Linked DNA regions of Homo sapiens: all the other regions are linked to region 1. The links come from fine-mapping of genetic effects on gene expression. A gene starts in region 1. Each other region holds a variant in brackets. All regions are shown on one strand. Distances are between the middles of the regions.

Region 1 (8,295 bases):
CCATTCTCCTGCCTCAGCCTCCCGAGTAGCTGGGACTACAGGCACCCGCCACTACGCCCGGCTAATTTTTTTGTATTTTTAGTAAAGACGGGGTTTCACCGGGTTAGGCAGGATGGTCTTGAACTCCTGACCTTGTGATCCACCCGCCTCAGCCTCCCAAAGTGCTGGGATTACAGGCGTGACCCACCACGCCTGGCTGTGTAGGTGTAGTCTTAAAACTCTAATCTGAGATTCCTTATAAAAGTTCCAGCCAAGCAAACCTAAAAAGGCTCCTGTGGTCAATTATCATTCTTGCTGGACTTATGTAAATGATCAGGCCAAATTTAATGAGACAAGACTTATTTTGTAAACAAGAGTAATCTTACTTTGTTTATCTTTGATCTCAGTGGTAGTAATTATACAGAGAAATTTTATGTTTCAATGGCAAACTATAACCCAGTTGTGTGAGTTATCAGACTCTAGTCTTGTTCATTGTCTTTGAGCAATTTTTTTACCTCTTTAAAAGCTGGATCCTGCCGGTCAGGCACGGTGGCTCACGCCCGTAATCCCAGCACTCTGGGAGGCCGAGGCCGGGGAATCACCTGAGGTCGGGAGTTCGAGACCAGCCATGACCAACATGGAGAAACCCCATCTCTACTACAAATACAAAATTAGCCCACAATCCCAGCTACTTGGGAGGCTGAGGCAGGAGAATCGCTTGAATCTGGGAGGTGGAGGTTGCAGTGAGCCGAGATTGCACCACTGCATTCCAGCCTGGGCAACAAGAGTGATACTCAGTCTCAAAAACAAACAAACAAAACAAAAAACAAAACAAAACCTGGATCCTGCCATCTTACATATTTTGTCAGTAATCAGTATTTCCAATTTTCCTCCCACTCTACTGACTTGACGTCACTGAGAACTAAAACTGATTCCTTCTCAAAGCCTTGCAAGCTGAAGCTGGATGGCTAGACAGAAACTTCAAAAGACTTATCACAACACGTGGGTCTTTCAAATATTTCCCCAGAACACCTGCATCTTCCAGACTGTGCTCTAGGAAATAACCATGATGGCAACACTACCTACCACTACCATCCTCACTAAAGATAGCTGGAGCCCAACATCTAGAAAATTTCATAACTGGCTTACCCTCTAGACTGGGTTTATCGTCTGCTCTGAACATTAATCATTGTTTTTGTTTCCTTGTTCTAATCTATGTTTTTCCCCCTTTTACAGATCTCTCATCTTACAATTTCTAACTCAAATCATCTCCCCACAGCAATCAACTTAGCTTCTTTTTTTTGTTAATGAAATTTCTAGGGAAGTTTCAGATGGAGAAATGTGTGGACCATTCAGGCCCTAAAAGTTGGTATAAAGATTATTTTACTGTGAAAATATTTGATCTAAGAAAGACGCATCAAGAAATTTTATTTGAACTTCCCTTATTTCACTAAAGCAGAGCCCCCAGAAAATACAGCTGCCATTGGCCTCCCTCTGAGGAAGTTTCCTGTAAATTCCACTACTGTAGAGACAGATTGCCCATTCTCATAAGCATCCAAAAGCCCAAAAGAACCTTCCACAACTTCCTACTGAAACTCCAAAATCTCCCAACACATTTTGTTAAGTGGATCTATAAACCTTTATTTCTATTTAGTGAGTTACTCTAAACCTTGTCTTTTCTCCTGTTAACCTGTTGTTATCAGTTAATTTGCAGGTCTTCAAACACAGGACCGACATTGAATGAGGAAAAGCTTTCCTTCCAACATAGACAATACGACTACCTGTAGAACATCATTTTGAATGTACAAAAAATTATTAAGCAGATTTAGCAAGTTTTCAGGACATGAGATCAATTGCAGATATCAACTATATTTCCATATATTAGCAACAATCAGAAACAAATGAAAAAATCACCATTTACGATATTATCAAAAAACACAAGACCTTGCACAGTGGCTCATGCCTGTAATCCCTACACTTTGGGAAGCTGAGGTGGGAGGATTGCTTGAGCCCAGGAGTTCAAGACCAGCCTGGGCAACATAGTGGGACTCCGCCTCTACAAAGAATTTAAAAAATGAATTGGGCATGGTCATGTGTACTTGTAGTCCCAGCTACTCAGGAGGTTGAGGTGGGAGGATAGCTTGATCCCAGGAGGGTCGAGGCTTCAAGATGAGCCATGATCACACCATTGCACTTCAGCCTGGGAGACAGAGTGAGATCCTGTCTCAAAAAAAAAAAAAAAAAAAAAAGAAGAAAAAAAGAAAAACAAAATAAAAAAACAAATACTTAGGTTAAAATCTAACAACAGTTATATTTTTTTTTTTTGAGATGGAGTCTCGCTCTGTTGCCCCAGGTGGAGTGCAGTGGCAAGATCTCTGCTCACTGCAAGCTCTGTCTCCCGGGTTCATGCCATTCTCCTGCCTCAGCCTTCCAAGTAGCTGGGGCTACAGGCGCATGCCACCACGCCCGGCTAATTTTTTGTATTTTTAGTAGAGATGGGGTTTCACTGTGTTAGCCAGGATGGTCTCAATCTCCTGACCTTGTGATCGGCCCGCCTTGGCCTCCCAAAGTGGCAGGCGTGAGCCACTGCGTCTGGCCAGAGAAATTTTAAAAGACCTAAATGTTAATGGGTCAGAAGATTCAATATGGTTAAAATGTCAATTCTCCCCAAATTCATCTGTAGAGTCAACACAATCTCAATCAAAATCCCAGCAGTATTTTTTTGTGCAAAATGAGAAGTCGACTCTAAGATTTAAAAGGAAATCTGAAGAATCTAGAAGATACAAAATAACCTTGAAAAATAAAGTTGTAGGACATAAACTATCTGATTTCATCACTTATTTATATAGCTACAATAATCAAAACAGCATGGTGCTGGCAGCAAAAAGACAAATAGCTCAATGGAACACAATAGGAAGCCTAAAATGAAACACATACATATGCAACACAGATTTTGATGTAAGCACAAAGGAAATGCAGTAGAGACAAAAATAACTTTTTAATAAATGATGCTGGAACATTTGGATATGTATACATGCAAAAAAATGAACTTTGGTCCCTATCCCATACCGTATACAAAAATTAATTAAAAGCAGATCTTATCCTTTGAGTCCAGTAGGTTGAGGCTGCAGTGAGCTGTGATTACACCACTGCATTCCAGCCTGGGCAACGGAGTGAGAAACTGCCTGGAGAAAAAAAAAAAAAAAAGTAGAACCTAGACCTGATATACAACCTAAAGCAGTAATATTTCTAGAAGAAATCCTAGGAGAAAATATTTGTGATCGTGGAGATGAAGAATCTATCAAATACTAAACTTTTTTTACCACCTTGACCAAAAGTAATTGGTTTATATACTTCATCATATCATTTAATTCAAAATCTACAGAGATCAATGTCACTTTCTCAGTAAAAGTACGTGAGTCTTCAATGATGCCCTGAACTCACACTCCCAAGTAAACCATAACACCATATTTCCAGAGTAGAGTTTATTAGAACAATAACTGGTGATAATGATAAATATTGATCAAAGACTGAGCCTAGGAAGTGGGTTTTTTGAGGCTGCATATACTCAAGGCAATTCTTCAGAACCACAGAGGGCTCATTGGATCCTATTAAAAGCTGAGAGTGAATGAATAAACAGATAAAACAGAGACCTGAGTAGACGGTAGTCGATATTCTTTTACATGTATTCTACCTCTAGATTCCATAGAAAGAACTAAAAGTACATGAATTTCACTACCAACATCTCCATCAGTTACCAGCTGTATCACCTTGGATCAGTCAGGTAACCTCCCGCGAATCTGGTTGCTTCCGGGGCAGGGGATCCGCGGGCTGCAGGTTTGAGCCTGGTTGCCGGCAGGGTGGAGCAGCTGGAGGGCCAAGCCTTTGAGCTCCAGGGGGGGTGGCCGGGACAGTGGGTAGTGCCAGCCGATCGGCGTCCTGGGGATTGCCTGAATGTGAGGTCTGGGTTCACCCCGCGGTGACCTGAGTCCTGGGATGCCCCTACAGGGATTTGCTGCCTCAGGGATCCGAAGTCTCTTTCATTCCCTTACTGGGGATTTGAGGTCTGGAGGTACTCCTGCGGGGGTCTGAGATCTCGGGGTCACCCTGTGGGGGTCTGAAGCCTCGGGGTCCCCGCGTGGGGTCTGAGGTATCAGAGTCCCCTCCGTTGGGTCTGAGGTCTCGGGGTCCCCCATCCCCGGGATCGGAGGTCCGGCTCCCCGGAGCAGGCAGGGCGGTGCGTCTGGCCCTGAACAGTAACGTGGCGCGCCAGCCCCAGGTGGTGTCGGGCTAGGGGGGCATAACGGTGCCGAAAGTCCGCACAAAGCCGTCCGCTGGGGTCCCGCCGCGTCCGCGAGGGAATGACTGTGCCCCCTCCCCTTCCTGATCCTCAGCTCAGGTGAGCCCAGATGAGGCGCCGGGTAGCTTCTAAGTCACTAATGGAAATAGAAGGCTAATTCAGGGGTTAGGGGCCGTCGTCCTCCTTACTCCCAGGAGAAGAGAAAAACCCACGGCCCAGCAGCCAGAGGCGCGGCGAGGCGGAATCGGGCCCCCTCCCCGGGGGCTCAGCTCCCTCCAGCCTCCCGCCTCACCTACAGAGAAATCCCGGAAACGCGGATTCAGCGGAGCGCGGTGACGGCGGCGCGCTCACCCCGCGCATGCCCAGTGCCCGCGCGCGCCGCCAGGCTCGCAAGCACCGCGTAGGCCAGCTGGCCGGATCCCGCCGTCTGTCATGGCGGCCCCCATCCTGAAAGGTGAGGTACTTCCTGCTGCCTGCTCCAGCAGCGGGAGTTTGAGGACCGGCACCCCTCGTCGCGGGCGCACTCGGGGGATCCCGTGGGAGGAGCCCCGCTCGCCCCTCCCTCGCTGCCTGTCTCCCCCAGACCCCCTGCCGCCTCCTTCCTCCCCCGCTGCCTGTCCCACCAAAACCCCCTGCTCCTGCTCTCTCCCCCGCTGCCTGTCCCCCCAAAACCCCCGGCTGCCTGCTTCGTCTCCCGTGCTCCCTGTCCCCCCAAACCCCCGACTGCCTGCTTCCTCCCCCGTACTGCTTGTGCCCCAACCCCCGTGCTGCTAGTTCCCCTCAATCCCCCGCTGCCTGCTCCCTCCCCCATGCTGCCTGTCCCCCAAATCCCGCCTTTCCCCCTACCTGCTTTCACCCCTGCTGCCTTAGTCCCTGGATCTGGGGCTCACTGGCAGGCAGAGTCCTGCCCTCCGGAAGTTGGTGTGGGGCCCTCCTGGGTCTGGTCCTGTTCGACCCCCTCTGAGGCCCACCTGGAGGAGCGGCAGTTGAGTTTCTATGCTAATTGTTCCAATAATAGGAGCCGCCTTTTACTGCGGAGTCTTTGTGTGCCAGGCGCTGTGCTTAGGCTAGTATGGTATTGTCTGATTTTTTTAACCGCTCTATCAACTCTCTTATATCATTTTACAGGCAGAAACTAAGGCATCGGACGTTTAGGTGACTCTCCCTGTGTGTGGCTAGTCAGTGCTGACAGGGCCTTAGACCGGAGCTGCTGTCCTAACCAGTATATGATACCGCACGCAGTCCCACCCTCTGTGCACCTGGAAGAGCCCAGGAGAGGGGAATAGCGGACACGTGTCTTGTAGAGTTTGACCGTGAGAAAAAAGGGGCCTGTATTGTGGGGCCTGGAGTCATAAAACCTCATAGCCAAAAGTAAAGACTAGAGGCTTTATACAAAGTCTGTAATCAGATGTGGCTATTTTTCTAATGTTAGTATTTTGTTAAATTAACCTGGTTTTCTTTTAGCGTTACCCCCAATCATTGACCAACGGCACACCTGGAAAATGCTTTTAAACATCAGGTTTTGAGAAGAGGATATCCACTAGAACAGGGGTCCACTCACTATGCCCCCCAGGCCATATCTAGCCTGCTGCCTGTTTTTGTAAGGGTCTACGAGCTAAGAATGTCTTTTACATTTTTAAGTGATTTTAAAAAAAGGTCAAATGAAAAATTATATCACATTCACATTTCCTTCTCCATAAATAAAGTTTTATTGGAACACAGGCCGGCCCGTTAATATATTACCTATGGTTATGTTTGTGCCACAACCGTGAAGTTGAGTAGTTGTGGCAAATACTGTATTGGCCACAAAGCCTGAAATATTTACCATCTGTCTCTTTACAGAAAATAGGTTTCTGCACTGGAAAAATTAAGCGTAAGAATTTGGGGAAAGCAACTAATTTTACAAATGTAAACTCTCATGTATTGTATGGGTACAGTTGTTCTTTGCTTAAAATTTTAATAAATTCCACTGAAGCTATTTTGAAAAGGCTTTCAGTAGAAATTTATTTATGAGACAGAGTCTTACTCTCTTGCCCAGGCTGGAGCGCAGTGATGTGATCACATAATAGCTCAAGCAATTCTGCTTCAGCCTCCTGAGTAACTTGGGACTACAGGCACTACCACGCCCGGTTATTTTTATTTTTATTTTTTAATTTATTATTTTTTTGTAGAGCCAGGGTCTCACTATGTTGCCTAGGCTGGTCTTGAATTCCTAGCCTCAAGCAATCCTCCCGCCTCCACCTTGCAAAATGCTGGGATTACAGGCATGAGCTACTTTGTTCAGCCAGTAGAAGAAACTTCATTTACTTTTCTTATTTTTGAGGCAAGGTCTTTCTCTGCTGCCCAGGCTGGAGTGCAATGGTGCGATCATAACTCAGCTTCTACCTCCTGGGCTCTAGGGATTCTCCCACCTCAGCTTCTCCACCCTACCCACCCCCATTTCCCACCCAGTAGCTGGGACTACAGCCACTCGCCACCATTCCTGGCTAATTAAAAACAAAATTTTTTTTAGAGACAGGGTTTCACTATGTTGCCCAGGCTGGTCTCAAACTTCTGTGCCCAAGTGATCCCACTGCCTTGGCCTTCCAGAGTGCTGCAATTACAGCATGAGCCACCACACCTGGCCAGTAGAGTAAATTTTTGTTTTACTTTTTTCTTTTTTTTTTTTTGAAACGGGTCTCGCCCTGTCACCCAGGCTGGAGTGCAATGGCGCAATCTCGGCTCACTGCAACCTCTGCCTCCCGGGTTCAAGTGATTCTCCTGCCTCAGCCTCCCAGTAGCTGGGATTACAGGTGCCCGCCACCATGCTCGGCTAATTTTTTGTATCTTTTAGTAGAGATGGTTTTTCACCATGTTGGCCCGGCTGGTCTCAAACCCCTGACTTCGTGGATCCACCCACTTCCGCCTCCCACAGTGCTGGGATTACAGGCGTGAGCCACTGTGCCGGCCTCGGTTTACTCTTAAATGTAAATAGAACAAAATCTATTGGGCAGGGGATGCTGGAATTTCAAATGTATGTTTCATGTTCATATCTTGTTTTCAGATGTAGTGGCCTATGTTGAAGTGTGGTCATCCAATGGAACAGAAAATTATTCAAAGACATTTACAACACAGCTTGTGGATATGGGGGCAAAGGTAAGACACTTATTTTGCTGTTGATTCATATGACAGTCTTCTGATTGGTAAAAAGTTACATTTGCATTTTCTTATTTTGGGAGTTTTTACTTAGAATCTGGACGAAGCAATGGGTAAGCGGTGGGAGAAAAAAGAGCCAAAGTGTGAAGAATTTAGAACAGTAGGACTTTCAGAACTCAATGCCTGTGGGCATTGAGTGAGGAGGAGGAACCTAGGATGAAATGCTGGATTCTTACACTGGTTACTTGAATGCATAGTGCTATTAAGCAAAGTGAGGAATACAGGAAAAGGAACAGGTTTCTAAGGGAAAAATTGTAAATTTGGGCATACTGAAAAATATCTGTTAGATATTTGGATATACAAGTCTGGAGCTTGGAGTGTTCAAGGCTAGAGATGATGATCTAGGGGGTCAGGACCATAGGGGTCATGTGAAGTCACAGGTGTGGACATCGTCCCATGTCAGGCATGGTTAGGATGAAGAGTGGTGACAGAGGAGCGTTGTTCAGTATTCAAGGACAGGCGATGGGAGCAGGGACCCAGTGACAGAGGGAGAGAAGAATGCCAGGAGAAGGAGAAAGGAAGTGTGGAAGTCAAAGTAGGGAGTAATTTTTTTTTTTTGAGACGGAGTCTCGCTCTGTCGCTAGGCTGGAGTGCAGTGACGCGATCTCAGCTCACTGCAATCTCTGCCTTCTGGGTTCAAGCGATTGTCCTGCCTCAGCCTTCCAAGTATCTGGGACTACAGGCACATGCCACCATGCCTAGCTAATTTTTTTTTTTGTATTTTTAGTAAAGACGGGGTTTCACCATGTTGGCCAGGATGGTCTCAATCTCCTGATCTCGTGATCCGCCCACCTCGGCCTCCCAAAGTGCTGGGATTACAG
Region 2 (8,000 bases), 85 kb after region 1:
TTATAAATACAAGTGTAGGGCTTAAAAGCTAAATCAGCTTTACAACAAAATGTCAAGGCCGCTAACTATCAACAGATAATCTAGTGTTTTCTTAATCAAAAATGATTTCATGATGACTATTTTCTTGAGATAATGTGATCCACATTGAACTTAGTAAGCAGTGAGTCAGATGAGATATGTTTTTATCAGTGGTGAGCATAGAATCAATGAACTGTTAGAATAACACACTCAGTTCATTCCGTTCACGCCTCTCATTTTACATTAAAGAAATGCTGAGCCGCTCTCCTAAAATTATAACTCATGGGAGAACCAGAACTGGAATCTCAGCTTTTCACTGGTGTTAGTTCATCACCCTGCATTCCTAAGTCTGTTCAAAAGGGATCATCTTGAAAAACCATTCTCTTTTTAACTTTCAGTTGGCAGATTAACTTCATAACTCATGTTAGGAAGAATCTTCAGGGACATTGTACTTGGTGTGTCACACTGACACTGAGTTTCTGAGGGTGCCCTTCAGGTCTCTCTGGCAGACATTTATTGCTCGCACTTGCAAGCTGACTAGGATCTCAGGCCTGGGTCTCTGAACTTTCACGGCTTGATTTCAAAGTCCTTTTTATCCTGCTACAGATTATACCTTGGTAAAGGACTTTATACTTCACAGAGTGTTTTCACATGCACTGTCTCACTGGATCCTGACAGAACATTTTTGCAGCCGAGAAGGACGCTGCAAATAATTAGTGAATTTAGTGATGGAGACTCTGGGCAAAAATAGCTTGTCTGACTTGAACGTGGATCTTAGAAACACATCTCTGTCAAGGCATTGTTTTAAGGCAGTGACTATGGTCTTACATTTATCTCCAGGACACCTAATTTATACTTTTTCCTGATTAAAATAATGGATTCTGGTTTTGCCCAGACATAGAACCCACAGAGTTTGTCTGCTTCTTTCACTTGAGGTGGTTCCTGAGCAGTGCCAGAGCTCATTCTCTGCGGAGGCTCCTGCAGGCTGCGGCAGCGTGGCCTCTGGCCGCTGGGAGCATGGGAAGCAGGCGCTGCGGTCTAGGTCCTCCATCCCCCTGTCTGCTGCTCCTGGCAAGACCCCAAGGTGCGCATTTCCCAGGTTGGAGCCGCTGTGCTTCCCAGGACCATAATCTGCTGATTGAGGACAGATACCAAAAAGTGATTCATCTGTAAAATTGAGGGCTGTGGTGCTGCCCTCTAGGAGGACATTTGGAAAGATGTGGAGAAACCTGTGAGTGCTAAGAATGACTGATGTTAAAGTTTGAAAGAGTCAAAGTGATTTTTTTAGTGGGAGAAGACTGTGGAGTCACCCTGAGATGCAACCACAGGCTTGATTAGAAATAAAGTTTGATCACCATTTTCAAATTTTTACATTAATATTTTTTAATTTTCGAAAGGTGCTAAACAGAATCTACTTAATGCACCTGGCACAGAAAAGGCAGTGCCCGGGTCCTAAGGCTGCACCTTTGCAAGAAAGAGAAATACCTGAGGCACCGGGAGTGAGGAGGACAGGTGTTGGAGAAGGCTGTAGGGCCCCAGTATGGCTGTGTAGTTCAAGACGAGGGATGCAGAAGCCATCGGACTATTTTAATTACAGAGTGGCAGCTTTTGTCTCTGTGGCCTCTCAGCAAAGAATGGATTGCAGGGAGGTAAGAACAGGGTGAGAAGCAGGAGGCAGCTAGGGTCATCGAGGTGAAAAATGACTGCGGCTGTGTCTAGAGGGGGGGTTGATAGGTGGAGAGGAGAGAGCAGGTCGGCGCCCTTCCTAGGAAGATCTAGTGGAATCTGTAACGTCAGGTGTGTGGGAATGGAGAAGTCAAGAAGACTCCCACCCAAATTTTTTCCTGGGGCGACTAACTATAGATAATGGTGCCATTTGCAGAGTTAGGGAATTCTGGGGCAGAAGATTGTGTGCAAGGTTTGGGGTACAATAAAAAATTGATGTAGGCATATTAGGTCTGAGATTCCTACTGGACATTCAAATAGAGATACTACATATCAGATTATATATATGTACAAATATTCAGAGGAAAGGTTAACTATTCACTCCAGCCATGGTACCTGGAAGGGAGTGTGAATGAAGAAATGAAGAAAACAGTGAGTTTAGGTTTGATCTCTGGGCTGTGCCCCTATGCAGAAGTCAGGGGGAAGGGGGAGGCAGGGGGACCCGGGAACGGCTAGCTAGCAACCTGGGGGAGACACCAGGGGAACATGGCATCAGTCAGAAGGGGGACTGTCTCAGGAAGGAAGGATGCTCAGCTGTGCTGAGTGCTGCTGGAAGGTGAATAAGAGGAGACAGAAGCCACTGTTTGATTTCTTCAGGTGGATGTTGTCAGAGACCTTGAAAAAAGCAGGATGAATCCAATGACTAAGACAGTTGAAGAGTCAATGGTACATAAAGCAGTGGAAGCACTAGGGTTATGTGTAATGGTGCGATTTGCTGAGTTAGGGATTATTATCAGACATATTGCTGATATGTTATTCCTAGACATAATGCTGCTGCTACATCAGAGAGATTGGTTGGCAGCGAATGGGGCACTGTGAAGTGTGACTCGAGCCTTCTCGTGTTGCCAACTGCAACACAGATCATCGTCCTAGTGCTTGGCGATGTGGTTGCATTATGGTGAGTTGAGTGTGGCCTTGGGAAGCATCTGAATCTGTTGGCTGAGTTATCAGGGAAAAAAAATTTAAAAAGTAAACTAAGATTATGTATATTAATGAAAAAGTTGCTGTATTTGGCAAATACTTTAAATGGATAAGGCTAAAAACCAACAAGTCGAGAGGGTACTTGTTGCCACCCATCCTTTTCCAAATCATGGCCTTCAAGGATCACACTGTTGGTCTTTCCTTTTCTTTTAACTTGGATCAACTGTGAAGTAACACAGGTCTTCAGTGTAGATCTCAGTTCCCCAACATTTGCCTTATGACTGAGACCTCCAGGACGTCAACTTGGTCCATGCTGAACTGCAGCACAAATTCCAAGCTTTGACCATACCTCAAGGTGCACTTTAACCTTTGCAGTGTTCTGCCAGACATCTGAACTTTCACTTTTGTTTCTGACATCTCAATCACACAGTTCTCACTGTAAATATTAAATAATAGCACAGAATATTTTAACTTCAGGTATTCATTGGAAAATTCAACCATGGTTTGGTTTTATCTGTCACTT[C/G]AAAAACTGTCTTCAGCTGTCCATCATTTAGATGTCATTTAGATGTTCCTCAGGGACTTTGGGGACATTGTTAACAATCTGTTATTTCAAGGCTTCTAAACTCTATCCCCAAGTTAAAATGATTTCCAAGGAACATCATACTTCTCTTACAGTCTGTGTGTAAGCACCCTCTGTGAATTCGGTTTTAGGGACAATGTTAGCTTTTGAAGAGAGCTGATGTAAGAAATACTAGATTTTAGGAAACTGTTGTACTTTTTTCAAAGCTATATTTGACGACATTGTACATTTTGCTACCTGATACTTTTGATGTATGATCCACCTAATGCCTTTCTCCTAAAATTAATTTCCAATGAATTGAATAGGAATTCCAAATGAAATGAATTTCATAGGAAAATCTCATACAGAAAATTTGTTAGGCTGTCCTTAACCAGAGAATGAGAATTATGTAATGCGGTTTTGTCAGCTAGAGTAACAGCTTGCCATAGGTTCATAATAGAGCTGTTTTTTAGTTCTTTTTCTTGGGTTCTTGTTTCTGAAAGAAAGTTTCTCTGCCAGAATATTGAAGTTGTGCCTAAGTTAATAATTTAACAAGCATTGTATATATTAATAATATAATATCAATAATGCTATTAATCATTAATAACAATTATTTAATATTAATATTAAATACTTAATATTAAATTTTTAGAATATTAAAATTTAAAATTTAAAAAATAAAATTTATCAAAAAAAATTTTTTTTTTACTTTTGAAGCATTGGTTTTATTAAACTTTCAAAGTAGTATGGCAAAAAGGTGGCCACATACCAAATAGTGTCATACATTTCTTAAAATCTCTCCTAGCAAATAAACTTAAATTGAGATCATGAGTCAGTTGAAAAGACAATTTAATTTTTTTGCCATACAATTAAAGTATTTCTGAGAAGTCAGAGTGCTTTGCAATGTTTGGTGAATAATTTACACAATTCCAGAATAATGTCTCACTTATGGAGAATACACCTACCACTTACTTCGATAAACAGAAGTAGAGTCTATGGTTTCTTTCTTTTTTTTTTTTTTTTTAGCTGCTAAAGATTATTATTAGGACAGAAGGACAATTAGCTTTAAAAGCATTGCTCAGAACATGTATTTTTTTTTCTAGTATTCTTTTTTTTTTATTATACTTTAAGTTCTAGGGTACATGTGCACAACATGCAGGTTTGTTACATATGTATGCATGTGCCATGCTGGTGTGCTGCACTCATTAACTCGTCATTTAGCATTAGGTATATCTCCTAATGCTATCCCTCCCCACTCCCCCGACCCCACAACAGGCCCTGGTGTGTGATGTTCCCCTTCCTGTGTCCATGTCTTCTCATTGTTCAATTCCCACCTATGAGTGAGAACATGCGGTGTTTGGTTTTTTTGTCCTTGTGATAGTTTGCTGAGAATGATGGTTTCCAGCTTCATCCATGTCCCTACAAAGGACATGAACTCATCATATTTTATGGCTGCATAGTAGTCCATGGTGTATATGTGCCACATTTTCTTAATCCAGTCTATCATTGTTGGACATTTGGGTTGGTTCCAAGTCTTTGCTATTGTAAATAGTGCCACAGTAAACACACGTGTGCATGTGTCTTTATAGCAGCATGATTTATAGTCCTTTGGGTATATACCCAGTAATGGGATGGCTGGATCAAATGGTATTTCTAGTTCTAGATCCCTGAGGAATCGCCACACTGACTTCCACAATGGTTGAACTAGTTTACAGTCCCACTAGCAATGTAAAAGTGTTCCTATTTCTCCACATCCTCTCCAGCACCTGTTGTTTCCTGACTTTTTAATGATCGCCATTCTAACTGGTGTGTGATGGTATCTCATTGTGGTTTTAATTTGCATTTCTCTGATGGCCAGTGATGATGCGCATGTTTTCATGTGTCTGTTGGCTGCATAAATGTCTTCTTTTGAGAAGTGTCTGTTCATATCCTTCGCCCACTTGTTGATGGGGTTGTTTTTTTCTTGTAAATTTGTTAGAGTTCTTTGTAGATTCTGGATATTAGCCCTTTGTCAGATGAGTAGATTGCAAAAATTTTCTCACATTCTGTAGGTTGCCTGTTCACTCTGATGGTAGTTTCTTTTGCTGTGCAGAAGCTCTTTAGTTTAATTAGATCCCATTTATCAATTTTGGCTTTTGTTGCCATTGCATTTGGTGTTTTAGACATGAAGTCCTTGTCCATGCCTGTGTCCTGAATATTATTGCCAAGGTTTTCTATGCTATAGAAATAGCATATTTCTATGCTATTCATCATTAATAACAATTATTTAATAATATTAATATTAAATAGTTAATATTAAATTTTTAGAATATTAAAATTTAAAATTTTTTTAAAAATAAATATTTTATATTAAATTATCAAATAAATATTAATAATAATTATTTAATATTATAAAATTAATAATCTTTCATTATTGAATTATTGATTGAGTTAAGTAATTAATTGATTAACTGATAAGGATTATTGTTAAATTATTGTACTCTTGGGTAGTACAGAGACTGCATACTGCGCTTTGCCATGTAAATACTATTGTCTACTTCCTGGTACGTGGCTCTAGGGAGGCTATGGCAGAGTCAAGTGCTTTTGCCCTTAATGTGAACAAAAAATAGTGATTGCTCTTAGTAGCCATAATATTTGGTTTATTGTCTGTGTTGGTAATAATTTCTGCTGTGTTTTCATACAGTGAAGTGATGTTTCTGCTGTTTATTTTAGTTGCATTGGAATTTGTTATATTTATTTCTTTGTTTTCCTTTTGATAAGAGAAGTACGCACTTAGTTATTTATAAAGATGTTTGGACTTCACATGTGAGTACAGTGGTGACATGCTGGGTTTTCCTGGTCATTGCTTAGCTGTATTTATAAAGTGAATATTACTGAGCAGTTAAGCCTTAACATCGAGAATCACCCATTTTCATTTTTGAAAACTGGAAAGGATTAGGTAGAATGCAAGGAGAATAAATTGAACTTAAATGTTTGTGTTCAATTGAGGTGAGCTTTTTCATAAGAATATTCAAGCCTAGGTCAACATGCAGCTTGTTTTCCCTCTCACCACCTGGAATTCAGTCTCTATCGGTCAATGTCTTCTAAAAGGGAAATGGGTTCTTAACTATATACTTTTAGTACTTTATTGCTTATCTTCCCTTTCTTGGTTGAATAGGCTGTGTTAGATATTTAGCTTCCTGCCCCTTTCTTTATGAGACAGCTAGAGCAGTGCTTTTCAAAACCTTACTAATGTGTGGATCACCTGGGGGATCTTACTGAAGTGCAGATCCTGGTTCAGTGGGTCTGGGTCTGCTCAGGCTTGAGGTGAGGTCCACGCTGCTAGTCCTGTGACCCAGCATTAGGTCCCCAGGATACAAAATATGACCGGGGATCTCTGTCGTATTCGGGGGTGGAGATGAGACAGCGTCCCAATGATGTTAGTCACATGGAACATTTAGAGATGCGGAGCTACTTTGTCAGTGTTTTACACATCGTCAAGCTGTTAGTCAAGACAGTAATCCTCTGTGGAAACTGTGGCTTGAACACTTTCAGTAAATTGCTCATGGTCATAGTGCTTGGAAATAGTAAATTTTTTTTTTTTTTCTTTGAGACAGAGTTTCGCTCTGTTGCCCAGGCTGGAGTGCAGTGGCACGATCTTGGCTCACTGCAACATCTGTCTCCCAGGCTCAAGCAATTCTTGTGCCTCAGCCTCTTGAGTAGCTGGGATTACAGGTGCATGCCACCACACCTGGCTAATTTTTATTTTTTGTAGAGACAGAGTTTCACCGTGTTGTCCAGGCTGGTCTCAAACTCCTGACCTCAAGTGATCCGCCGACCTTGGCCTCCCAAGGAACTGGGATTACAGATGTGAGCCACTGCATCCTGCCAGAAATGGTGAATTTTGAATTTGAATTCAGCTCTTCCTCAATTCATAGCCCACATTCTTTCTAGCATCTACTTCCAAAGATAGCCTAGAGAGTATTTTTTATCTTCTATAGCTGTAAACCTTGATATGGGCATTCTCTGATGGCCTGTGTGTTTTGAAAAGATTAATGGATAAGGCAGTGGATTTCACTGCTAACCTTGCTACACCGTAGCTGTGTAACCTTGGGTAAGGCAGTTTCTTTATCTGTAAAAGAATGGAAAGATCACCTAAATAAAGTACTCAGTAAACACTCAATAAATATTAAATATCGTTATTATTCAACAAGCATTTTTGACGCTGATCACTAGCCTTCATTAAAAGTATAACTTGGATGAACGTTGAACACACCGAGTGAAAGGAGCCAGACACAAAAAGCACATGTTGTATAATTCCTTTCAGACAGTATATCCAGAATAGGTAAATCCATAGAATAGAAAACTAATTAGAAGTTACCAGGGATGGAGGGGAGAGAGGGATGGGGAGTGATTACTTAACAGGTACAGGATGTTTTTCTGGGGTGATGAAAGCATTTTGAAACTAGAAAGAGGAGCTGGTTGCACAGCATCATGATATAAAATGCCATTGAATTGCACACTTTAAAATGGTTAATTGTATATTATGCCAATTTCACCTCACTTAAAAAAAGTCATATATGGAAAATAGCTTTAAGGCACCACTACAACTACTAAATAGGTTTGTATTTTTAAAAGAACTTTATGGAATTATAGGAAGCATTTCTTGATGTTATGAGATGTGTTGGAAATACAGAAGAATAGCTTATTTTGGAACAGATATTATTGGCTTGAAATTTTGCCAGTTCAAGCTGGTCTCTTTGGAAGACTAGACCTTTATTTTCTGGCTTGAAAATGC
Region 3 (8,000 bases), 140 kb after region 1:
AAAAGGTGTCACATTTTACACGAGTGTCTTTTAGAGGTCTTGTAGGGCACATGTATATTTACCAGATGTCTGTGAGCGTGCAGCCTCATGGCACGTTATGCATACCTGACACTTGCACAGATTCCTGGAAGATGAGGAGCAAATACAGTGCAACAGACGTTGTCAGGCCACGTCTGCATATATAGATATATACACAGCAAGAATAGTTACAGCAGCTTACAATGACAAAATGCTTCTCAGTGTGTATGTGTGTGTACCTCTGTCTCACCAGATTCTCACACTGCCTTAGCTTGGGTTTCCCCAAAAGCAGAGCCTGAGACAAAGGCAGGCATGCAGGAAGTTTATTTAGGCAGTGGTCCCAGAGCGCAGCCATGCCGAACAGGCGCGGGAGGCAGGGGCGCCGCAGGGTGGTTCGCACACGTGGACTCAGGCGGCCACCGCCGCGCTGGCTGGTAAGAAGCCCCACAGGATCTCCCAAGGAGCCCTGGGACAGTGTCTCAGAACATCCACCTGGGGCAAGAATGGGGACTGCTGTCCCCAGGGGGCAGGTGGAGCCTAGTGGGCATTCATGACCCAGGTTTTGGAGCTGTGCTTGCGAGAGTGCCGAGGAGGCTCTCATGGGTGTCCCGAGGCAGCTTGGAGCCAACGTCCCTAGGCATGGCCTGGGGGTTTGTGGGAAGGCCTGAGGCAAGGCCTGTCTCTGAGATGTCCTGAAGAGCAAGTTGGGCCCAGAGGGTTAATTCCGAGCAGCACAAGAGGGTGAATTCTGAGCAGCACCAGAGGGTTTCCCTGACACAGCAGGGGATGCTTTGAGGCCCCTTTAATGAAGGAGAAAAATGAGGCTTAGAGAAAGTCAGTGCCCACCCCAAGTCTCATGGGCCCCAGGCTGTGGGCAGTGGCTAAAGACAGGCTAGTGGGTAACTCGGGGCCACGTGGAAGGGGAGCTTGTATTTATAGCCCCCAGTCAGCAGCGCTGGAGAGGAGAGGAGAGGAAAAGCAGTGCTCTGAGAAAGACAATATTTCTAGTAGATTGGGGCAGGGCAGGCCTGGAGACAGGAAACCAAAGCCAGGGTTGTCATGCAGGAGTGAGATGAGGTTGCAGCAGCAGAGCGAATGCGGAGACGCTCGGCAGGTCCTTGGTGGCCTCTGAGTTATTCTGCAGACTTCTGCCATTCGTCTATTTTTTGGGATACTTTGTTAAATTCTCAGCTTAGAAGATAGTAGTGATGTTTTCCCTACAGAGATAGAAGAAAATATAAAACTATTTTCTTTTTAAAACTGTACTGAATGTAGGGCCGGGCATAGTGGCTCACTCCTGTAATCCCAATACTTTAGGGGGCCAAGGTAGGAGGATCACTTGAGGTCAGCAGTTCAAGACCAGCCTAGGCAACATGGCGAGACTCCATCTCTACAGAAAATTTTTTTAAAAATTAGCTGGACATGGTGGCTCATGCCTGTGGTCCTAGCTACTCAGGAGGCTAAGGTGGGAGGATTGCTTGAGCCCAGGAGGTTGAGGCTGCAGTGAGCCGTGATCGTGCCACTGCACTCCAGCCTGGGTGACAGAATGAGACTCAATCTCAAAAAAAAAAAAAAAAAAGTACTGAATGATAAATGATTACAAATAGAAGCAGTTAAAATTTAGCTCTAGGAATGAGATTGATGCATTTAGGCTACAATATACCAGGAACTTCCTTTTTAAATGAAACTAGAGCGTTCTTGCCTTTCTGAATTTAAGGCACACTGAAAGAAAAAATAATAATAATGTAACAAAATGTCTCAGTGTTTTTCTATGCCAAATAGAATCTTATGTATATCTGTCTAGAGACATATATGCATACATTTGTCTACACATGTGAGGTAGGGGTGTGTGTGTGTGTGTGTGTATCTGTGTGTGTGTGTATGTATGTGTGTGTGTTTCAGTTCTCTAAGAAACAGACATTCCAAAACTTGTGTGTGTGTGTTTCAGTTCTCTAAGAAATAGACATTCCAAAGCTTGGTGGGCAATGGCGGGAGGCTTTAGACCCTGTAATATTGTCGGAGTGTCACTGTAAGAGGGACGCTAGCGCCTGGGTCACAGTGCTAGCTGGTAGCAGAGTACTAACTTAAACCCTGGTCTCCCAACACCCCATCCCGCACTCTCATCGCTGTACTGATATGCCTATTCTTATCTTAAAAAAAAAAAAGTGCTGTCTGAGGAGCATTAACATTCTTACTTTTTCATTTTTGAAATGAAGTATAAAGATACTGATGGCCTTTTACGTCTCCTCTCTGCCCTGTTTTTGCTGTCTCTTTCTGTGTTACATGGGTTTGCCAAAATACTGGGTGGAGCTCTGTGGAGGAGGTAGCATGATCATCTCTGAAGTGGGCAGTTTTTTTCTTTTTCCAATAAACTGAATTTACTTGGTCACAATGACTATCCTAAATGGCTAGAAAAGGGAAAAGGCTAGCGAAACTTAGATGATTTTCTAAATTTAGATAATTTTCTAGAAGACATTTTCCAGGCAAACTAGTTTTTGCTGTCCTTTATAAGGCCGGCAGGAAGCGTGTGTTGTTTCTGTTTTAAAAAGGGAGAGGAGCGGACTTGGGAATGCTGATGGGAATGCTTGAGAAATCTCACAGCAGGGCTGTGCGTGCCCTGCCGGGTCCCACTGCCTCTGGACAGAAACCCCCGCAACTCCACCCCCAGCCAAGACTTTCTGCTTCTTTATCTCCTCTTTCTGCTAGCACCCAAAAAGTTGAAAGAATTCCAATGGATAGAATTTTTGAGATAATATTGGAAGATGCTCAAAATACACAGGATTAATTTACACGAAGACTCAGCGGGAACACAAGCCATCTTCTGTACATGAAGATGCACTACTGACCCGCCGTCCGCAAATGTGTTTGTACAGTTACTTTCTCAGTATGGGTGATGGCTCTCCAACGAACTGCTCCTCGTCTCCTGCCTGGACACCCTTCTCTCTGTGCTTTCCTGGGTTAGAGTAAATGGATGCAAACACACATTTCCGTGCTCTGCAGCAACTTGAGACTCCTGTGAGCAAAACGCACTGACGGGCAATGTGCGTGGGTCGTGGGGAGCATCCAGCTCCCATCTGCGGAATAAACCCGCCCAAACCATAGGGAAAAGCGCTGTCGT[A/G]TAAGGCCAGGGGATTTTCAGAAAAGAAATGTGTTCTTTCCTCTTTGATTTTTGTGTTCATAAAGCTGTAGGTGCAGCTTTTTTTAATGTAATGATTTCATAACCGCTGAAGTTCGTGCTTTTCTGAACTATTTAGGAAGATAATCTACCCCTTGTATTGGATGAGATGATCTGTCCCTTCGACCTCTGGTTCAGTTCCCATTCTCCCAAGTATTTAAAGCTGCGAGTTTTTTCATATTTTCATATTTATTTACATAATTTAAACCCCCTGTGTGCATGGACTTTAAGGAGCTGTACATCTGCCTGGGCTTTGCAGAAGCTGAAAGGGCGCAATCTTTTTATAACTCACATTAGAAACACAGATTATTTAACGGGGCTATGTTTTGCACCTTAATCTTTAAAGTTGCAATATATTTTAAGCATTTTAACCTTGTTTTAGATCTGATCAGCAGTAGAATGTTTTCAGATAAGAAACAATGGAGCAAAAGCAAAACAATATTCAATACCTAGATGATGTGGCAAGACAGAGAATAGTATAACTTTTTGTTTTCCAAACATAACTTTTATCTTCATCTCTTGATCTGAAATTTGGTAGGAAGTGTAACAAGTACGAATCAACATATTTACCATTTGCCATTTCAAATGTTGATAGTGAAGCTGGGACCTCTGTTTATTATGGAAGACCATAGAAAACCCCATAAACACGTTCTACTTCTGTCTGTGGCCAGCAGTCCAGCAAAAATGTTCTAAAAGCACATGCACTGTGTTCCGTGATGATTATAGTTTGACTGTGCTGGAAAGAGAGACTGTGAACTGCACATGGTGATTATGACTTTGGGCAAATCACTGAACTTGTAATTATGTCTTCCAAGACCTCCTAACCCAAAATAAGAGAGTATTTTACTACAAAATATATGTTACGTCAAACTGTTTTTTACAAAATACCAGCTCTAGGGATGTTTCCAAGTCATTTTCGGAGAGAGTTTGTCGAAGTTTTTTTCAGGGTGTGTCATTCATGTATTGGAGGGGGAGAGGGTTGAGTAAGAACCGACATGCACAACTTGGCCATGAAATGAAGCGCAAGCACATATTTTATTTCTATAGGATTCCTCATTCTAAAGTAATTTTTACAGAAAATGGCACTCTAAGAAGGAATTCATTAAGATAAAGACACAGATACAGCATTTAGAGTTACACTTTGCCATAAAAGAGCCTCCCTTACCTCCTGACTTGAATCTATAACATCTGCTGAACTGTCGACATCAGGAAGACTCGAAATATGTTTTGAGGCCAATTATGTCATTTCAGATTGAACCTGCTAACATCAGATTCTTTGGTCAGTAGTCTCACTAGTTTTGTTCTCACAATGGAATTATTATTTTGATTTTTAAATGTTGCTCCATGGAGACTGGTATGATGAGCTCATGCTCTGCAGTTCCATTTTAACAAATAACATAATAGATCGCTGTCAAATGAATGCCATCACAGACATCATGTTGGGTCACAGAAGCCACACCCTAGGAGTGCTTACTAGATGATCCATTTCCATGAAGCTCAAGAATGGACCGAACTTACTAAAGGTGATAGAAGTCAGAATAATGTCTTCCGGGTGGGAGGGGTTTGAGGCTGTGAACTGAGCAGTGGCACGAGGGAGCCTTCTGGAGTGCTGAAAATGTTTCCTAGATCTTGACCTCGGTGCTGGTTACATGAGTGAATCCATATTTTTAAAAGTTATCAAGCTGTAAATTTCAGGTTAGTATACTTTATCCATTTCCTGTGTTTTATATCTCAAAAATTCTTTTAAAAACTAAAAGACATTTAGAAATGAAATGTTTGACAAGTTTTGTTGTGACACTATGACCCTAGTTACTATGGGTGGTTTTATTTGTCTCTGCAGTTTTCATCTAGGAGCACCTAAATAATGCCTAATGAAATGAACTTTGGAAAAGTAATTTTAAAGTAACTATCTTAGAGAACTGTGGATTAAACCATTCCAGCCATCTGATGAGGGTTAAAATGTATATTCGTAATCTGACATTCCAAAACACGATTCTTTCCGGATCAAGCATAAAAGGCATTTGCTCTTGGAAGACCAAGAAAGAATTCATGTGGTTCCCATTAGTCTAAAAATAAATAATAAATAAATAAATGTCTGAGTCATGTATTGGATTTTGTTGGATTTCAGTGGCTTCAAGTATAGGAAGAAAATGATTTGTGCTATTAATAATAGTTCTACCCATTGCCCATTGGAATAAATACAAGATTACTCTGAGAAAAGTGAAATCGATTGAATTTAGTTCTGCTTTGAGCTACTGCAATGCAAGTGTTTCTGACTTTTGAGACATAGTATAAAAAACTGAATAAAATAACTTTGTTCATATTGAATTGAGTTGGGGAAGTAGCGATATTTGTGACATTGGAAGCCATTGTCATTACAGATTCATCATTACAGTACAGATTTGAGAATCAAACACACCCGGTGTGAGTCCCAGTTCAGTTCCTTAGGAACTACTGGCTCAATACTTTCTAACATCACATTTCTGGTTGGTAAAACAGGTATATAAATACCTACTGTGCTATGCTAGTGTGAAAATTAAGTGGAATGAGTTAGCACAATTCCCAAACTGTGTGCCAAGGCACCCTGGGTCCTTGCAGCAAACAAATTGGAGTAAGGGAGACAGTCTGAATATTCAAGGGCAACCCAGCAGTGTTCAATGACTGTCAGCCACTGGAAGAATTCATAGCTCAAAGCAGTTCACCGTTTCAACAGTATCAGCTTGTACCTCTGTAAAGCTAGGTTTTTGGTGGTTGCTGTTTGTGAAAAGCAAGTGCTACAGGAAAATTAGCATAGAGCGTAAAATGCAGGTGGCAGTGTCCAATTTGATTCCAAAGTTTGAGAAGCCAGGTGTGCCTAACTGGCAAATATATTCCATTCATACGTCACTGGGGTTACTTAAGAAAGAAAATAAAGGATCTTTTTTTAAAACTCAATTTATATGTATATTGGTATTTTCAAATAGCTACTAAATTGTCAGAACATAAATACTTAAATTATTTGGAGCTAACCGCTTAATACAAGCAACTGTTGGCCTAGAGATAAATAGAGAAAAAATAGTGAATCACTAAGGGTCCCATGAGCTGAGAAAGTTTGAGAACAACTAGCCTAGAAGCTTGCACTTGGTAGGATATAAACTCAACGTACCCTCTTCCTCCCCTTCCCCCAATCCAAGTATTGCCTTTAATTGTAATCTCTATGATTTGATATGTTTATCGGAAAGCGAGTAAGTCAAAAAGAACTAATAAATTGTGTAAGACCTTCATTAAGATGTACCCTTCCGTGTTTTCCTAACTTCTGAAATCACTAGGAAAAACAGCCATGTTCCTTGCAAGCTGGCTGGTTAGTCCTGTCTTCTTTCAGGTGAACAGCATTTATAACCACGGTGTACCTCGGAAGAAGCGTTCTCAGAGCAACATGCACGTGTTCCGTGTGTACCGTGGTTGCCTTCGGGCTAATGCGTTTTTGGAAGTGTAGATAGGTGCCAGTTTTACAAAACTCATGTGGCCTATTTCTGCTTGTAATTTATAGTTTGCCTCCTCACCATCCTCACTTGCTCTAAGGTGAACTAGTTTTATACCATTAGATTATACAGAAAAGTCAAATTTACTTGCATGCCACAGCAATTCGGGAAGTAAACTTTCAGTGTGATTCTCCAAATGCTTGTGGTAAAAGTACAGAGACTTGAATCATTTTCCCATAATTAGTTTCAGTTCTGGAGGTCCGCCCCCTCTCTTTAACCCTCTTGCCTTGCATATGTGTCTCTTGCAATGGAAGCTAGTGGAAATTTCCTCTCCCCTTTCACTCCACTGCCATAAGTTATAAAAAGCATGCCATTCAGAACTGACGTTTTCTTCTGCATGCTTGAATTTTTACTCAACAACTGGAAGGGGAAGAAGTTATTTCCAGAGATGTTTCTCTGTTTATCAAAGGGGCGCAGAGTCACAGTAGCACTTTGGACCACCGTAGAATGGCTGACTCACTTGCCTCATCAGTAGAGGGGCACATGTTCCTATCAAACAGTGAGTGCCTTTGAGTGACGGTGTGTGACACACAGCACAGCAGCACCATTTCTCAGAGCTGCAGCAACACTGGTTCACACAAGTCACTAGAGATTCCCATCTCCACTGACTCACTCGGTGGGAACAAAAGCTCCCATGCCGGTGGGAATGCGGGGCCAGGGGAGCACCGGAAGAAGGGAGCCGTGGCAGAGGTTTTCCTATTGTTAGGTTTGTTTGTTTGTTTCAGTGAGTCATCTTACCCCCATTTTTTTTTTTTTTTTTAACCAAAACTCACTGTGGTTACTTCTCTAGTTTGGGTTATGACTCCTACGAGCCAGTTTAATTTTATCAGTGGCAGTGAATTCTTGAACGCTTCCCTCAGTTGTAGAAATTTAGTTTCACATTTAAGTGGTCCAAGTGCCAGCTTAAACTTTGTGGTTTAGTGTCTTTACTGAATCCCCCCTAGCGGAAGAACCTACATTGGAGTTTTGGCTGCTCTTTGGGATTCAAATTATGAGTAGTTGGTTCCACTGGAATCTTGGCCTTCTCCTGGAGTGGCTTGAGGCGGCACGCTTTGACTTTAGAAGGCCAAAGTTAGAACCTACGTGAAGGCTTTGTCCAAAATGCCTTTCCTGCACCCTGGCATTTTCAGGTGGTGTGTGTAGACCTGACAGGACTCTACTCGTGCGTCACTTCCCAGCTGTTGGTCCCCTGCCACTTAGATGCCTTTCATGGGCAAGTCCATGCTAGCCTAGGAAATTTCCCGAAAATGGCAGTGATAACTCAGAATTAGGATTTTGATCCTCAT

What was found.
Region 2: its variant is fine-mapped to the expression of MCPH1-DT in whole blood (TOPMed, PIP 0.99).
Region 3: its variant is fine-mapped to the expression of MCPH1-DT in lung (TOPMed, PIP 0.98).

The regions. Positions count from the first base shown.
Region 1 is chr8:6,401,957-6,410,251 of GRCh38, forward strand. It overlaps MCPH1-DT (MCPH1 divergent transcript), which reads right to left and starts at 4,592. Exons shown (of 2, transcript NR_040040.1): 1 at 3,750-4,592; 2 at 1,600-3,164. It overlaps MCPH1 (microcephalin 1), which reads left to right and starts at 4,671. Exons shown (of 14, transcript NM_024596.5): 1 at 4,671-4,733; 2 at 7,323-7,414. The coding sequence starts at 4,712. RefSeq lists silencers at 4,413-4,492, 4,753-4,932.
Region 2 is chr8:6,487,147-6,495,146 of GRCh38, forward strand. The region is part of intron 11 of MCPH1 (microcephalin 1); the gene reads left to right. Among named protein-coding and RNA genes, the nearest start is that of ANGPT2, 72 kb to the right of the region's middle. The variant C/G (reference allele first, on the strand shown) is at 3,188.
Region 3 is chr8:6,540,429-6,548,428 of GRCh38, forward strand. The region is part of intron 12 of MCPH1 (microcephalin 1); the gene reads left to right. The region is part of intron 1 of ANGPT2 (angiopoietin 2); the gene reads right to left. Among named protein-coding and RNA genes, the nearest start is that of ANGPT2, 19 kb to the right of the region's middle. The variant A/G (reference allele first, on the strand shown) is at 3,137.